Regions from separate parts of the Homo sapiens genome. Here region 2 is linked to region 1. The links come from fine-mapping of genetic effects on gene expression. A gene starts in region 1. The other region holds a variant in brackets. All regions are shown on one strand. Distances are between the middles of the regions.

Region 1 (4,404 bases):
CTCACGCGATCCTTCCACCTCAGCCTCCCAAGTAACTGGGGCTACAGGTGTACACCACTACACTTGGTGAATTTTTTTTTTTTTTGTAGAGACGGGGTTTCACCATGTTGCCCAGGCTGGTCTGGACTCTTGGGTTCAAGCAATAGGCCTGCCTTGGCCTCCCAAAGTGCTGGGATTATAGGCATGAGCCACCGTGTGTGGCCTTGGGGACCATTCTTAATATGTTTAAGCTCACTATCATAGTTTCCACAGCAAAACTAGAAAATAAGACATCTCACTGTATATCCACCTGCTTACATATTTGTCTTTCCTGAAGGATTCTTAGGCTCTCAGTTTATCTCTTTTTCTCACTCACCACCCAGCTTCTGGCCCAGTGCTTAGCTTATCTTAGGATATAGAGGTGTAGATGTGAATTTTCATTCACAAACTTGAAATCCACATGTGACTCTGACCTGGGATAAATTTATACAGCTATGGAAATTCTGAAATTATCTGAACATCATCGATAAATGATAAAACAAATGTGTACATTTGTGTATACACATACATGCACACACAAAGCATGCCGGAATGATAAAATCACCTGGAAACCATTTCAAAGAAATGCCATACCCAAGAAGAAGAAAATGCTACTCAAATCTTCAGTTCACTAAATTGCAACTAAATGACACTATTTTGAGTAGACTTTTTTTAAGTACATTTTTTAAGTACATTTCTCCTTTGAATATCTTGCAAGTCCTATCCAAAGTTATAAGTGTACAACCACTATTTTATAAGACATGCTTTCTCCTAGAGTTCTGTAGAGATTTTAGCATAGTCCTTATCAGTGACGGCACATTTATTCTGCAAACAGATTATGTCTTCTATGAACACAGAAGAGGATCCAACTGAACCTTTTCACTTTTTAAGTTTTTCTCCAAAGCTGGATTTTGTCTTCACACTGTCTGGTTTTAGCAGTGGCTAGGTCAAAGTATACTACAGAAGAACGAAAAATCGACTCTAGAAAAGCACGCAGAATGACAGCCAACCAGTTAGGGAGTAAATGTTTCTCGTTGCAGATGTTTGGGAAGCCATGATTTTTATTTAGAACTGTGGAAACCTTATCTTTGAATTTAAAAAGCCAGTCCTGAGATGCATCTGCCTCAGGGGTAACTACCATAGTGAAACCGCTCCTCTCCCAGGCCATATCAAATCACAGTTGTAGTTATGAACATACAAATCACACACATATATATATATATATACATACATATATATTTCAAAATCGCCACCTGTTAATTTTTGATCCCCTATTAGAGGTGTTATCCACCAACTACTAACACGAAGGTCACTGGTCCTCAACCCACATTTCACCACCAGGGCAGTCGGGCCTAGCTGATGACCACACGAACACCAGATTAAGAGTAAAACCTTCTGAGGCCTGAAAGTGAGCGTGTATTCACACATCCTTAATAATACAGTGTCTGAAAAATTGTACCTGAAACTGAAAGATTTATTCTAAGGTATTTCAAGCACTAAGGGTCTGAGTTCAGCATTCTCACACCATCCTGAAAGAGGAACATTAAGTCAGCAAAATGACTGCGATCTGGGCCCCCAGAGGGATCCCAGCCAGGCCATCCTTGCTGGTGTCTTAAAGATTCAGTGACAAAATGGTGTTGCTTGGCAGGACACTGTTTTGCGTTCGGTGTAGCCACCCTAATGACGGCTGCTTAACAAGGCCAATGAATATCATAAGGGACATTTAGCAAGGAGCAATCCACAGGAGCATGGGGGTGGGGCAAGGCCGCGGAGCCCCCGCGGAGACCTGCTGGAGCCAGGCTGCCCACCCCCACCTCCCCACCCGCGCGTTGGCCCAGAGGTTTACCCAGGCAGCGGCCCTGGTGCCGAGGGGGCAGGTGCAGCGCTGTAGTGATGCCCAGTGGCCTCGTCCTCAGCCACCTGCCCCCCAACACCTGCTAGATGCCCAGGCGGGGCAGGCCCGAGGTGTCGCCGGCCCTGGGCTTCCCAAGCCAGCCCAGGGGCATCCCGCGGCAGGCGCCCCCGACACCCACGCGCAGGAATAGGGAGGGCGCATCGCGGCTCCCGCGCCCCGGCCAGGCCGGCAAGGACCCCACCGCCCCGCTCTCGGGTGGAGGCGCCCCTCCCCACCCCTCCCCCGCGCGGGGCCCCCGCCCGCAGCCCCTCTAGCAGCCCCTCTCGCAGCCCCAGCGCCCCTGAGCCGTCCTGGCCCGGACCGGCCAAGGAACTAACGAGCGCGCATCGCGGGCCTCGGGCGCAGGGCACGGAGCCGGCCGCGCCGCAGCCTCCCGGGCACCGGCGGCGGTGACCAACCTGTAACCCCAGCGCTCAGAGCTGTCATGGTGCCCGCGGGCGGCGGCGGCGGCGACAGTGGGCGACCGGCAGGATCAGTGCCAGGCGCGGCGCCCAGGGCGGGCGGGGACGCGGGCCCCTCACCTACGGCGGCTCAGCTCAGGCAGCGCGCTCGGCCCGGCTGGGGCCGCGGCTCACGCTCGCCGTGTCACTCACTGAGCGCCGCCGCCGCCGGGCAGGCTGGGGGAGGGGTGGGAGCCGGAGTTTTCGGGCCTTTAAAAAATTATTATTTTATTTAAATTTTTAAAGTTAGCTTTGCTACAGGGACTGCAGTGATGCCGAAGGGCGGGCACCGCAGAGGAGGCTGCGCCGCAGTTGGTGGGGAGCGCCAGGGTCGGTACTGGCAGTTCCTTCTTGCCGGCTGCCACCCGCAGTCAGTCTCACAGCAACAGCTAGGCTCTCATCTGCGAGCTCCTCTCGGGGGTCTTTCGTACTCAACAGCACGGCGGCGGTGTGCACGGGAGTCCGCCGGGCACACGCGGGGTACACTTAAGTGCACTGCCAGGAGGCCGGGAGCCCAGCGTGCGAGCGTGAGGTCAGACTGTGCACGGTACCGAGGACTAGTTCCATTCCTGAGTATGAAAGGGTGAAACCGTTCACCTCAAGTTTCACCCCGGAGTTATTAAATAATGAATGCATCAGTCACACTTATAGTTTTCTAAATAGGTTGACGTTCGCCTTTAAAATTAAAATATGTTGTCGTGTGGATGAGACAAAGTCTATTCAGAAATTGACAGTCCCCCACCCCATACCCTGTGAGTATACCTGGACAGCAGACTGCATCTGAGGCTTCCTAGGGCTCCCAGCAGAGCAGGTTTAGGGAAATCTGGCCTCCTAAGCACCATGCCCAGGGCGACATCCTCCCACTCATTCCCACTCTCTGAAAGGTTTACTTTGGGTCTGGAATCTTGCCATGTAGTCAGATACGAAAATCCCCAGGGAACTCCTGACCAGTGATTTAGACATCATGCACACAGGCATATAAATAAAGGGAAAGAAACAACTGAATGAAGCTTTCTCTACAAGAGAAATTCTAAACAAAGAGCATTTGTCTATCACAAAATGTTATGTGGCAAGGTATAGAAGTAAAACTACACAAACCTACATTTTAAAAATGTATTTTCTGGTTACAGATATTTAATTAATCTACTTTCTTAAAAAGTCCATTCACAATTTGTTCACATTCATAATCCATATTAGTACGTTTTATTGTTTACAGGGAAATGTTAAAATATTGGTATTTCATGAAATACAGAGTCATGCGAGATAATTTTTCAAATTTCTAAAGACTTCAGAAAAACTGTGTCAAAAGCCAGGTTTTAAACAAATGATGAAATCACTCCTCATAAGAAAAAATTGACAGTAATTTAAACAATGCTAAATCTACAACCAGTTTGCTTAGAAAAAGTATTTACCAACTTGTTTCATCATCTTTATTTGCGGCTTTCAATTGCTTGTTCTAAATACTAGTTTATTTCACAAACTGAAATATATAGCTATATATATATGGTAGCTGAATGATAGTGTGTTATTCCTTGACATTCGTTCGAATTATCTGTTAGTAAATTATATTAAGGAAATATTTAAACATTTATTTATAATGTTTTGAAGTGGTCAAGGCAGTGATTTTTTACTAATCTCAGTGCCACTCCTCACCCAACAGGCATTTCAGACCTTTCTCTGTCCTTGGTTGAACTACCTCTGTTAAGTCTCTATAATTCATGCTCATGAGCCAAACAATCCCAATGATGATGGAGACAGTCTCAGAGAATTCATGGGCTTCAAGGAAGTCATGGAATCCAGCACACTCATCCTATAATGCATAGGGATTCACTGTGTATTGGAGTAGACAATCATTTTAAAAAACAGGTACATCCAAAATATCATAGTACCCCTTCTACCTGCTCAGTATCTCTCTTCTTTTGTTTTCTTTGTTATTTTTAGAGACAAGGCCTATCTCCGTTGCCTAGCCTGGAGTGCATTGATGTGATTATAGCTCACTGCATCCTCAAAGCAAAAGTAGAAAGGATGAAC
Region 2 (4,404 bases), 34 kb before region 1:
ATTAGATCATTAAGGCAAAAACCCCCAAAGATCAAATGCACCTGATAGACATCTACAGAACTTTCCACTGTATATATGTGGATGTATATATACACATATATACATTTTTTCTCATTGTCACATAGCACATATTCTAACATCAACACTTAATCAGACATAAAACATCTCTCAGAAAATGCAAAATAACTGAAATCAAAACAACCATTCTCTTGGACCACAGTGTAATAAAAATAGAATTCAAGACTAACAAAAAAAAGTGAAGAAGAAACTTGTCTTAATTTGCAAGGAAAACACATATTGACTTTAATTTTAATTGGGATTGCATATGTAAAAGAAAGATAAAGATGTACCACTTTCATTTTTTAATAGGGTATCTATTCTGACATTAGAATGCTTTAATAACATGGGAATTTAAAAAATGCCTTTGGAATAATAAAACAGAAAACTTCATGAGGTTAAAAATTAGAAACTTTAAACAGAAAAGCCTTTGCTTTTTTAGGACTATCCCATTAAATCATGAATTCTGTAATCATCCATGTAAGTCAATTCTGAATTCAGTCACATATATCATTACCTCCTCTGATTAAACCTGCTAGGGAAATGAAAATAGAAATAAAATGTCAAGATTTCAAATCAAATGATAAAACATGTTGCAGGATATTGACATAAGCCTCTACCTTTAGTAACAAATAAGTATCCAAATATCTCCTTGAGAGGTTTCTGGAAATAGTTTATGGTGTATGCAAAACTAACACTATGATAAAACACTTAATGGAAGTTATTTGACCCAAAAATGAAGTATAAACTCAACTTAATGAACACTGGGTAAGTGCCTGTTTTACATTAGAGGATATATAATGCCTAGCTAACACACACACACACACACACACACACACACACACACCACCATCACCACCACCAACAACCAAAAGAACAGTCTTGTAGAAAAACAGATGTGAACACATCCAGCTAGTATATAAAGCAAAATAACTTAAAGCTATAAACATGGTGGGAAAGATGGTAAGATTAATTCTATGGGGAGTTTAGAGAAACCAATGTTAATTCCCAAATGAACGGACAAATAATGTTTTCAGGGGCAAGGTAATCAACCAAACTTGGTGACTCCTGGGTTTGGGAAGACTCACAAAAGAGATATGAAAGCAAACTCTGAAGCTTGGCTCTGGGTGACAAGAAGGACAATGGCCTTATTAAATTGTGTGATTATCATCATATGAAGATTTATACCCAAGGAAGAGAAAAGCTGCATCTTAGGATGCTACCGATGCTACTGGTGTTTATGTGCTACACATAAACGCATCACAAAGGTTACATATATAACAAATAACGTAAGGATTTTTTATAGTCATCTTCAACTTTTTTTATAGTTGCATTTTTTAATAGTTGTGTTAAAGATCTCACAGAGGATCTTTAACTATAAGCATCATACTTGCCTCGTATATTGCACAGTTGAAAATGTAAATTAATTATAATCTAAATACAGATAACATAGCCCATATAAAATTGACTTTTTCTGAGCCTAAATTTGATTAATACCCAAGAAGGTAATAGAAGATGAATTATTTAAAGTTGTGCCCTTCATTCCTTCCTCCCTCTCTCCCTCCCTTACTTCCTTCTTTCCCTCAGCTCATAAGCATCCCTTTAACCTAGGCAGTGTTCAAGAACTAGGGATACGAGGGTGAACAAAACAAACGCTTCTGTCTTTAAGCAATTTACATTCTGAATGAAATAAAATATAAAATATTCATTATGTTATATGTTGACAAGTGTCATGAAGAAAAATAAAAGTGTATATTTTCAAATGGACTTTTATTAAATGAACAAATGTTTTTTACTTGTGTGTTAGGGAAAAAAAAAGAAAAGTATCACTTCATCTTTATTTTAAGAACTAGGCAGAGTTGTCACTTGTTTTTAAAAA[G/T]GCAAAGAATTCCAAAAACGAAAACTGAAATTTTATGGGACTCAGCAGAGAACTATGTTAAAATTGGAGCAATGAATGAGTACATATTAGGCAGGAAAAGAGTAATTATAGATCGTTGAGTACACGGGCACCCAAATAGGATGAATTTATATTGTACTTTTTCAAAACAGTATTACTATTTTATTTCATTTTTGTCATTAACAATGTTATATGTAGCAGCACTACAATTACCCTCTTTTTAATTGCTCATAATTTGCTTTAGAAATGAATTAAACTCGGTGGAACATTGAATGAGAGTTCACCATTACAATGAGGTACATTTACAATGTTAACAAATGAGGATAAACAGTGATACTTCCCTTTGTGTTATGGGGAGGGGGGCGGGCAAGTGAATGGCCAGGAGCCAAAGGTGGAGGAGAGACATGCTTTTCACAATGTATTCTGATATGTTTTTGGACCAATGCTTACATGTTAAATTTTTAAAAATAGCTTTTCAATTTTTTTTTTAAGTTGGACATTTTAGCTTTAACAAAATCACTTCTCCAGTTGGCAAAAATAAATTTAAATTTAAAAATTGGGGCCTCACCAATTCAGAATGAAAAGCTATCAATAACAGATGTGACTGAATTTTTGTTTCTGATTTCTTTGCTAAGGAAATTAATGTTGTAAAACTGGCCCACACTACATTTCAAACTATATAAAATAATGAATTATTTTAAATCATTTTAGAAGCACCAGTGGTGATCAGAAATTAGAAGCATACAAACATCTTAATTTCGAACGACCTCAGTTATAAAAACTGGCTTAGCAAAAATTCTACCATGTAATGTAGAAAACTTTCTTTTCCATAGGAAGTAATTTAATTGTTTTGTTTGGAATGTCTTCTGCCTTGGACTTTTCAGAAACATATAGTGGCATTCCTGTGTCACCAACAAGCTCAGCACATGCTAGATGGTATGCAGTGGTCAATCAGAATTGACCTCTTTTTATTTTCCCAGTGAAGTATGGAAATAATCCTCTGGGCATAAGTTTCATGTATTACTTTTTGGCTCATGTTTCCAAGAGTCATTCAATATTCATAAACATCTTTTATAAGCAGAGTTATGACCCAAGATACAAAGGCCAGCAACCCTCAGCATTTTTCCATTTGTAAAAAATCTTTGGCTTTTTAATGTTCATTGTTTTTCATGCTGTCCATCTTCCCGAAAAATTCTGCCAAGTCTGTGCCAACCTTTCCTTCCAGAGTGATCTGACTACAGCCTCCTCTGATCACCTTAACTCAGGCGTCATGCAACAACTGACAACTCAGCTCATGTATATAAATAATGTGCATCTTGTGTTACTCGCAGAATATGCCTTTGTAATCCATATTGGTTATTTCATGAATTTATATTTGGTCTCTCCAACTTATTGGATCTGATGGTGAAGTTTGAGTTTCCTACTTAAATCTTCTCTGAACGTATTCTCTGGAGTTACATTAGAAAAAAAAAAAGAAGTCTATCTCTCATGGTAAATGTTTGAGTGTATTCTGAAGATGAGTAACACCCTGAGACTTTAAGTCGGATAATTTAAGGTTGTGTTTGCAGCACCCAGTACAGTGGGTGACATATAGCAGATATTAAATGAATGATGAGATAGGTACATGAACCATGTCTTAGATACAGTGTATACAGCAAGATGTCAGTTAATATACAATGTATACAGCAAGATGTCAGTTAATATTTCTTAATGAATGCATCCATCCATCCATCTATTCACTGAAATTATTTGTATGCTTCTAAAAAGAAATTATTCCTTTCTGGCTCCTTTGTAACCATGAAAGATCACAGACGAGATTATGAGATGACTTATGGATACTTCCTGGATTAGCATAGTTTGCATAAGCAGAACTAAACATGCCATGCAAATACAGTTACGGTTTACATATTTTATACATTACCATGATTGTAAATACAATTGAACTGGTAGGAATTAAAATTACTATCATATTAATCATTATCAATAATTGCTAAGGCACAATAAGTTTATAATACTTTTAAATAAGTAGAATGCAGACCTTGAAATCTGACACTTTGCAATACAATCTTGGATTATGTTTTGTATCTGGCACATTTATCAAATTATCGTCAGAAGCCCTAGCCATAGTAGTCAAAGTTGCTTTGATTCCATTTATAAGCATGGCCAGATCCTTTAAAATTCTACTGTATTGAGGCTCAAGTTATAATATTTGCAACCCAATTCTAAAATATGCAACCAGAAGCTAACACATATGAATGCCCAGTGGTACTCAAGATATTTTAACACCTTAAATATGAAAAAATGTTTTAATTTGTTTGTTCCATCAACAAGAAATGGAGGGCAGAGAGTGCTTGAGCTATGCGCAAAAATCAGCACTTTGGTGGCTGAGGAGAGGAGTGCTTCAAGAGCTGTATATGTCAATTTTTATAACGGTAAACACTTGAAGACTG

Direction of the effects. Alleles are on the strand shown, and positions count from the first base shown. SD is a standard deviation of normalised expression in the study named.
For the expression in fibroblasts of the gene that starts at base 2,527 in region 1, allele G in region 2 goes with a lower level than allele T (small effect, 0.32 SD a copy in GTEx).

Evidence for each region. PIP is the estimated chance that this variant, and not a neighbour inherited with it, causes the effect.
Region 2: its variant is fine-mapped to the expression of NALCN in fibroblasts (GTEx, PIP 0.96).

The regions. Positions count from the first base shown.
Region 1 is chr13:101,413,982-101,418,385 of GRCh38, forward strand. It overlaps NALCN (sodium leak channel, non-selective), which reads right to left and starts at 2,527. Exons shown (of 44, transcript NM_052867.4): 1 at 2,332-2,527. RefSeq lists enhancers at 1,328-1,878, 1,879-2,429.
Region 2 is chr13:101,379,990-101,384,393 of GRCh38, forward strand. The region is part of intron 3 of NALCN (sodium leak channel, non-selective); the gene reads right to left. Among named protein-coding and RNA genes, the nearest start is that of NALCN, 34 kb to the right of the region's middle. The variant G/T (reference allele first, on the strand shown) is at 1,937.